Homo sapiens: one gene and its partner. The protein of the gene in region 2 interacts with the protein of the main gene of each other region in a pairwise test. Each region holds a gene or a part of one and is shown on either strand. Other genes may lie near its edges.

Region 1 (3,500 bases), on a different chromosome or scaffold from region 2:
TTTTTACTGGAGATGGGGCTTTGCCATGTTGGTCAGGCTGGGCTTGAACTCCTGACATCAGGTGATCCACCCATCTCGGACTCCCAAACTGCTGGTATTACAGATAGGAGCCACTGTGCCCGGCCTCCTACTATTTGTTATAGGAGCTTTTGCCAAACATACAACATTTCTGAAGATATTAATCTTTGTTTGCTTGATGTTTTTGTATCTTACTATTATCTGTGTTTATATTTTCTTTGTGCACAATCTGAATATTCTTTTTATGATATGTAAGTATTTGTCATGTACCCTTTAATTTTCAAGCAGTTTAAACCTATATTTTTTTTAATCTAGAAGGCTTCTAATTTGTTTGAATAGAATATGCATAACTACTTAATAGAATGCTTGCCCTATCAGTATAGTTAATAGAATGTTAATACTTACTGCCGAGCGTGGTGGCTCACACCTGTAATCCCAGCACTTTGAGAGGCCGAGGCAGGTGGATCACGAGGTCAGATCGAGACCATTCTGGCTAACGGGGTTTAGTAGGAATCCCATCTCTACTAAAAACACAAAAAATTTGCCAGGCGTGGTCGCGAGTGCCTGTAGTCCCAGCTACTCAGGAGGCTGAGACAGGAGAATGGTGTGAACCTGGGAAGCAGAGCTTCCAGTGAGCCAAGATCACGCCACTACACCCCAGCCTGGGCAACAGAGCGAGACTCCGTCTCAAAAAAAAAAAAAAAAAAAAAAAAAAGAATGTTAATTGTTACTTAATAATAGAATACTTGTCCTATCAATATCAGTATAGTTAAACAAAATAAGGTCTACTTAAATAGAAAATAAAGTGTATTTTTCTCTACTTTCCTTTCTTAGCATTTCCCCCACAAGTTCCCATGAAATTAAACTATAAAGGCTGGGCATGGTGGCTGGTGCTTGTAATCCCAGCATTTTTGGAGGCTGAGGTGGGAGGATCACTTGAGCCCAGAAGTTCGAGACCACCCTGGGCAATATTACAAGACCCCATCTCTACAAAAAATGAAAACATTATCCAAGCGTGATGGTGCATGCCTGTGGTCCCAACTACTAAGATGGGAGGATCCCTTAAGCCTGGGGGGTTGAGGCTGCAGTGAGCTATGATTGTGCCACTGCACTCTGGCCTGCCACACTCTGGCCTGAGCAACAAAACGAGACCACATCTCAAGAAGAAAGAGAAATGAAATAAAGCTATTCGGATTCATTTTTAGGAAAAAAAAGTCATGAAATAAATGTCATGAAATAACCTAATATAGAAATACAGTAAGTATAGGTAACTCTAAAACTTGACTAGATTTGGCCTGTCTTTGATAATAAAAGGCATTTGGGCCTTTGATGTGCCGCATACCCAGCACTACTGTGAACTTGTGCATCCTTACATGGAGTCTGTTAACGTAAGTTAATATGAGTTAACTATCTCGCTCACACTTTTATAGGAGTGCCTACTGATTCTGAGATATGGTGAATTGAAGTCATCTTCAGCCTGTTAATAGCCTTCATAATTTTTAAAAGGTCTTTCCTCTTCCCCTAAATCTCAAACACATTTTATAGTCTTGAATGGTTTCAGACTTTATTCAGTCATATTTGTCACCCATATCTGCAATATCTCCAGCTTAATTTTATCAGACTTGACAAGTACCTAATAATTCCAAAGGTCAAAAAGTGATTCATTGGAATACTGAAAGAAAACACAGCTTAAACTCTAGTAATTTGATTTATTTGCTTAATGTGCAAAAGCCTCATTGACCCAGGATGCAGTTAAATTGACGTCTTGGCCCAGAAAGCTTTGAAGCCTAGGAGGTAGGCAAAGGGAGTTTTTTCTCTCACTCCTCGGCAAACCTTCAAATTTGATGTTATTTATCTGTTATTTCCTGACTGCCCATTCCACAGAGAGTGTCAGATTGAGGCTCAGACCTGAGCCTGAACCCTGATCCTGTCACATGTGTGTTTAGCATCAGCTTGTAAATTTCTGCAAAACAAAAGAAAAAAAGAGGCTGGGATTTTTATAGGAATTTCATTGAATCTGTACACTAATTTGTGGAGTATTGCCATCTTCCCCACCCTCCCCAAAAAGGTTTTGTCCTTTCACCCAGGCTGGAGTACCAGACAGCAGTCACTGCAACCTTGACCTCCTGGGCTCAAGCAATCCTCTCACCTCACCCTCCCAAGTAGCTAGAACCACAGGGGTGTGCAACTGTGCCTAGCTAATTTTTTAATTTTTTGTGGAGACACGGTCTCATCACGTATCCCAGACTGGTCTCAAACTCCTGAGCTCAAGCAGTCTTCCCACCTCAGCTTCCCAAAATTCTGGGATTATAGGCATGAGCCACTGCACCTGACCAGTATTGCCATCTTAACCATATTAAGCCTTCCAATGCTGAATATGAGATGTCTTTCCATTTATTTAGGTCTCTTGATTTCTTTCAATGATGTTTTGTAGTTCTCATTGTAGAAGTCTTACATAGAAGTCTTACAACTAAATATTTTACTCCTTTTAATGCTATTGTAAGTGACATTGGTCTATAGTTTTCTTATGATGTCTTTGTCTAGTCTTTGTATCAGGACAATTCTAGCCTCATGGAATGAGTTGAGGAGTGTTCCTTCCTCTTCTGCTTTTGGAAAAGCTTTTGAAAGGTCAATGTTCATTCTCTTGTGTGAGTGTAAATATCACCTAAGTTCTGCAGGACCCTGATGTCTCCACCCTTCTCATCCCCTTATATCTCTGTGTACCAAAATTACCCTTTCATCTCCTACTCTATAGTCACATGCTGTTAGAAAAGTTGCTTTTTTAAAAAAGATTAACTTCTGCCTCATACCTGTTCTCTATATAAGAATTTATCTGTTAGGCCAAGCATGGTGGCTCATGCCTGTAATCCCAGCACTTTGGGAGGCTGAGGCGGGTGGATCACCTGAGGTCAGGAGTTCGAGACCAGCCTGGCCAACATGGTAAAACCCCGTCTCTACTAAAAATAAAAAAAAATTAGCCAGGCAGGTACCTGTAATCCCAGCTACTCAGGAGGCTGAGGCAGGAGAATTGCTTGAACCTGGAAGGCGGAGGTTGCAGTGAGCCGAGATCATGCCATTGTACTCCAGCCTGGGCAGCAAGAGTGTAACTCCTTCTCAAAACATAAAAATTAAAAAAAAACAAAAAGAATATATCTGTTATTCAGGAACTACTTGTTTTTTGTTTTTGTTTTTGTTTTGAGACAGAGTCTTGCTGTGTCACCCAGGCTGGAGTGTAGTGGCACGATCTCAGCTCACTGCAAGCTCCGCCTCCCGGGTTCACGCCATTCTCCTGCCTCAGCCTCCCAAGAAGCTGGGACTACAGGCGCCCGCCACCACGCCCGGCTAATTTTTTGTATTTTTAGTAGAGACAGGGTTTCACTGTGTTAGCCAGGATGGTCTCGATCTCCTGACCTTGTGATCCACTCACCTCGGCCTCCCAAAGTGCTAGGATTACAGGCATGAGCACCGCACCCGGCCTCAGG
Region 2 (5,711 bases):
TGTTTTCTAATAACAATTGTTGGAAATTTTTTTAAATAGGATTTATTTTCAGTGTTTTAAAATACTACCTTTTGTTTAGATAGTATGCGTACTTGGAACTAAGAGCACTGGCTTTTTTTCCCCAAACAATGTCATTATAAGCTGATGTCATTTATAACACCAGAGCTTATAAGTAGGGGTTGAGTTTGCCTTTCTCATCAATTAAAAGTGAATTGCAGCTGGGTGTCGTGGCTCACACCTATAGTACCAACACTTTGGGAAGCCAAGGCAGGAGGGTTGCTTGAGGCCAGGAGTTCGAGACCAGCCTATGCAACACAATGAGACCCCATCTCTACAAAAAAATTAGATGAGTATGATGGCATGCGCCTCTGAAGTGAGAGGATGGCTTGAGCCCAGGAGTTAGAGGCTGCAGTTAACTATGATCCCACCACTGTACTCCAGCCTGGGTGACAGAGCAAGAACCTGTCTCTTAGAAGAAAAAAAAAACTAAATTGCCAGTGTAGAGGAAAAGTCCTTTATCGTCTCTTTCTTTACTGTTTTTAATGATTTGACATTCATTACAAGTTTTAAAAAGTAGATGTGCTAATCTCTTCAGATATAATATGTTTAGCTGTTTCTTGTGACAGCAGTGGATTGTTGACAGAGCTTCTTCCTCAGTGTATTAGAGTAAAACTTGATGAGAATTTTTATTACTTGCAGGGAGTGGTGAACATTTTGGTTTATCTACATATGCTTGTGATTAATAAGAGTGATAGTTACATACAGATATTTTAAATTTTTGAATATTTCCCCATTAATTTAACTTGCTTTAGTTGGTCTTTCTGAATGCCATTATTTCCCAACATTACTTTTAAAAGATACTTAATATAGTTCACAAGTTGAGGTTTTGGGGAACTACTAATCATGATCATGTTAGATTTAGTTTTCTGTTGAGTTTGGTTTTCTTTTTTGTTGCCAGAGTGTTGAAATTTTACTTTATAAAATATTATTTAGATAGACATAAATCCCCATGTATGCTAAATTTAAAATAATGAATTTCTTCTTTAGCTTCAAAAGCAGTGGACTGTCTTTTGGATTCAAAGTGGGCAAAGGCCAAGAAAGGAGAGGAAGCTTTATTTACAACCAGGGAGTCTGTGGTTGACTACTGCAACAGGTACTGTTTATTTCTTAGTGAAGAATAACATAATAATTTTAAATTTTCTTCATAGTCCTGAAGCTCCTTACATCATTAAATGTAGTGATACTACAACATAACTCAAATACTGTTTTCACATGTAACCTGATTTCTTTGGTACCTCTGGAAATGTGTTTGGTATTAGACTATTATACTTTTAACTGTATATAATTTTTATTTATGTTCTATTTTATATATTTGTGAGCCCTACTGAAGGGTCAGCAACAAAAGTCATATACCAGTGCCTACAGTAGAAAAGAAAGTTTTTTCTTTTGTAGAGCAAATTGGTTGAGGAGTCTTTTTTTCAAAACTTTTGCAGGAATTCCTATTAGCTGTGTTACCGCTACTTTTTTAGTGCCTGCACCCTGAGCCATAAGCCTCATACCCTTTCCTATTTGGTTCAGTGTTTGCTAATGTAGTATTTCTTCTAAAATCAAGGAAGCTGCAACATCTACCTTATCTTTTTCTGAGAATTTCAAGATGAAATACAGCTAATTCAGTAATATACATATATTTTTCATAATAGATACTTTTTCTGTTTTGAAAAAACTTTTGATGTTAAGTGGTTTACCTAAAAGACAAAATCACCTTCCTTTTGGAAGGAAGTATGCTGGTTTTTCTTTCCATTTCTTTTCTTTTTTTTCTTGGTTTACTTAATACTAAGCATTTTCTTAATATATGTTAACTAAATTTTGTTTTCATAACACTAAAGCTTATCTTTTGGGATTTTAGATTATTTTATGTGTACTAATATTTTATTTAATGGCACCTAAAGTATCAGCCACATAAGAACCCTCTTAAAAACCACTATTTCACAACCTGGTTTCTTAAGCTGTCAAGTTAAAGAATTATTGAATATTTCTTAAAATTCTTAGTTGCCAAAGACTAGAGGTTACTAACAGACCTTTTAGAAACAGTAGGTTTCGGCCAGGCACAGTGGCTCATGCCCGTAATCCCAGCACTTTGGGAGGCCGAGGCAGGTGGATCACAAGGTCAGGAGATCGAGACCATTCTGGCTAACAAGGTGAAACCCCATCTCTACTAAAAATACAAAAAATTAGCCAGGTGTGGTGGCGGGCACCTATAGTCCCAGCTACTCGGGAGGCTGAGGCAGGAGAATGGCGTGAACCCGGGAGGCGGAGCTTGCAGTGAGCCGAGGTTGCGCCACTGCACTCCAGCCTGGGCGACAGAGTGAGACATTGTTGAGACAAGGATGAGCTAACACTCATGCAGTTGATATTTGCTTGTCTTTTGTAGCAACTTGTCTAGTTAGAATTAGCTCCAGCAAGCATATATCCAGGGCAACTTGAATCTGCTCGTGGGGAAAAAATAAAAAGGTGAATAGAATTAGCTCCACGGTACAAACTTCCAGGCTGGGCACAGTGGTTCACGCCTGTAATCCTGACACTTTGGGAGACCAAGGCAGGGAGATCACATGAGGCCAGGAGTTCAAGACCAGCCTGGCCAACATAGCGAAACCCCATCTCTACTAAAAATACAAAAATTAGCCAGGCGTGGTGGCATGCACCTGTAGTCCCAGCAACTTGGGTGACTGAGACATGAAAATAGCTTCAGCCCGGGAGGTGGAGGTTGCAGTGAGCCGAGATCGCACCACTGCACTCCAACCTGGGTGACAGAGCAAGACTCTGTCTTAAAAACAAACCAAAAAGTACAAACTTCCTTACCTGCCACAAAACTGATGTATTTTTTACATGTTGTGTAAAAATTAAGAGATGCTACAAATGCAGAAACTGGGGCACAGAGAACTTAAGTACTTTATCTAAGGCTACACAGCTAGCAAGTGGCAGATCTAGGGTTCTACATCTAGCAGCCTGTCTCCACAGTCTGTGTTCTTAACTACCGCTCTATACTGTCTCCTCCAACAAAATGACGATGCATTTAATGGAGCTATTAGATCTGTAAGCCCAAATCTCTGAGTAGAGCAGCCAGTATGAATCCACATTTTTTGGCTTTTTAGGAGCCTTGGTACCTTGTTATTTGAAAAGCTCAAAAGACCTGAGTACAGAGAGTGTCCAAAGACACTCGATTTTCATTGTATACGCTCTTCCCACTGATGTCAGATTGTTTGAGTCCTTTCTGCACTAAAATAAATGAGAATAGCATAACTTTAAGGTCTCCAGAGCCACTTCTAATATAACCGTAGAGTCTTATTGGCCAGTTCTCATGAGTTGCTGCCCAATAGCAGACAAAATCACAAAGGGTCTCTTGACCAGTTTCTTTTTTTCTTTTTTTGGCATCCTCCAATACTGTCAGTTTTTCTGAGGCAGCTAAGTGGCATGAGGGAGTCTGAGGAAAAACAAAATAGGAAAATGTAGGATGATAAAACAATCTTTTCTAATGTGATCTATACCTTTTTATGGCCTATATCATGAATGAACTCATACATACTAGGTTAAGTCTCCACAAGACTTTGTATCACTGACCCCCAATCCAGTTATGTCGTCCTCAGTCTTGTGCACATGCCACACTCATTTTTTCTTCTAGTCTTTTTCCTATCATAACTTGCCACTTTCCCTAAACGGTTCTGTTTCCTCTGTCCCACCTGCCTCTCAAAATCACAAACAAATCCCTCAAGTCCTTCCTCTACCGAATGTACTCTTCCCCAGGCCCTCCAGCCTTCATCAGCCTTTGTATCTAAAGTTCTACTGAGTTTATCAAGTTAGTACCTCCCAGTTTGGCCCTTAACTATTTTAGAATTGCTACATATGTGTGAGTTTTTTTAAAATCTCCTGCCAGCTAAATCTGAAAACAATTGTAAGACTGTTTTATACTTTATTGTAACTCCATAGCAATTACCACAGTGTGAGCACTTCATAAAAACTCACCTTTGCCACATTGGTGGAAGTCCCCAACATGTCTGGCATTTAATAAATGTTTGTTAAATCTGAAAAAAAAATGGAAGTGAAGGAAAAAAATACAGAAGTAATTTTTTAAATGTTTTAGAAGCTGTTTTAAAACCACTTACTCAACAAATAGTCTAGGCTCCAGGAATACAATAATAACTATGACTTGGTCCCTACATCAAAACATATTCTGATCTGTTAGGGAAGATTTATAACTAATCACAATGCAGTGTGTTGAATAAGGAAGAGAGAGATGGTGAAACTATGAAGAATGACATCACACAGAAAATGTTTTAAGTAAATTTTGAAACATAAATAGGTGATTACCCAACAAACAAGAGAAGAAAGGAAATTCATTCCAAGCAAAGGGCATAGAACACACCGAGATAGGAAAGTATGAGTAGTTGTGTAAAAATGTCAGAGAGTTTTATGTTAGTAATGTGTTCTATGTCATGGGTTTAAAGCCAAACAAACGGAGGCTCTGATACTATACAAATGTTAAATAATGTCAGTCTCATCTTTCAACCTAATTGTGAAATTATTTTCAACACAATTTGATTGAAAGTTAATAATCTACTTTTCTTTCGTGGGGGTGGGCAGCTGTGCAGGAAAATTGACAGAAGCAGATGATCCTGCTGGTTCTATTGCCTTCAGTATCTACTCATCAGGGAAAAGGCTTTTTTCTACTAAAGTTGCATTGTTTGTTTTTAAAATTCTTTATTAAGAATCATTTTTTCCACTAAAGTAAATTTAAGAAAATGGGAACTGTTGCAAATGATTTAGAAGAAAATCCAAATTACTAATAATGTTGCTTCGTAGATAGCCAGCCACATTACCATTTGAGAATATATACTTCAAGTATCTGTATGTGTACACATGTACTCTTAATATATGGACATGTATATTAACTGCATTATAAAATGCTGCTTTTTCAATTAACATATGAGGAACAGGATGTATTTTTATTTTCATTTGGAGTGGAAATAAATGTTCCTGAAAGAAAATCTGGAAATCATATAAGTGCACAAAGAAAATTAGAATATATTTTCATTATAGATTTTTTTTGTAAGACATTCTGGAGTAAAAAATGTAAGACTACACTTCATATTCAAATATGCCACTACTATTCTTAAATCCCACTTTGTACTCATAAGTAGTTAATCATTAAGGTCTCATTTCAGATTCTTGTTTGTTTATATATGTATATGTATTCATAGCAGATATGATGGTAGCATTTTGAGGGGCAGTTTGAACATTTGCACAATTATATGCACAATCATATTTACATAATTTAAAAATAGCTCTTCCAAATAAGTAGTATGGGCCAAATGAGGAAACCTAGAAATTAGCTTTGTGGAAGTGCTCATAGGCTGGACCTAATTGGGGAGCAGATGGAAGCCCAGCCAGGCAGGTAAAACATAGAAACATAGGTGCTTCAGGGGACTGAACACAGTGACAAAAAGAAGTGGTTATCTGGGCAGGAAGAAAGCATCTAGTTAACAAGTGCTGTGATGTGCTGGAGCAGGCACCAGTGAGGTGTAAGTAGAAAGGTAGCTAGATAGTCACCATTAGCAGGCACCAGTGGTGGTAGTGAGACGTAGCTTCTAGATTGTATTGTGGCAATTAGACATTATCAAAGCAGGAATGGAGAAACCAATCAGAAATTCTGAAAC

Evidence for each region. Proteins that work in one complex are often made in the same cells at the same time.
Region 1: the proteins of SEC62 (region 2) and GLUD1 interact in a two-hybrid assay, tested with the Homo sapiens proteins (one large-scale study listed by BioGRID and IntAct).

The regions. Positions count from the first base shown.
Region 1 is NC_000010.11:87,070,844-87,074,343, reverse strand, and holds part of GLUD1 (glutamate dehydrogenase 1, mitochondrial isoform a precursor), read left to right. Parts: intron 1-3,500. UniProt on the Homo sapiens protein: Mitochondrial glutamate dehydrogenase that catalyzes the conversion of L-glutamate into alpha-ketoglutarate. Plays a key role in glutamine anaplerosis by producing alpha-ketoglutarate, an important intermediate in the tricarboxylic acid cycle.
Region 2 is NC_000003.12:169,975,899-169,981,609, forward strand, and holds part of SEC62 (translocation protein SEC62), read left to right. Parts: intron 1-1,047; coding exon 1,048-1,153; intron 1,154-5,711. UniProt on the Homo sapiens protein: Mediates post-translational transport of precursor polypeptides across endoplasmic reticulum (ER). Proposed to act as a targeting receptor for small presecretory proteins containing short and apolar signal peptides.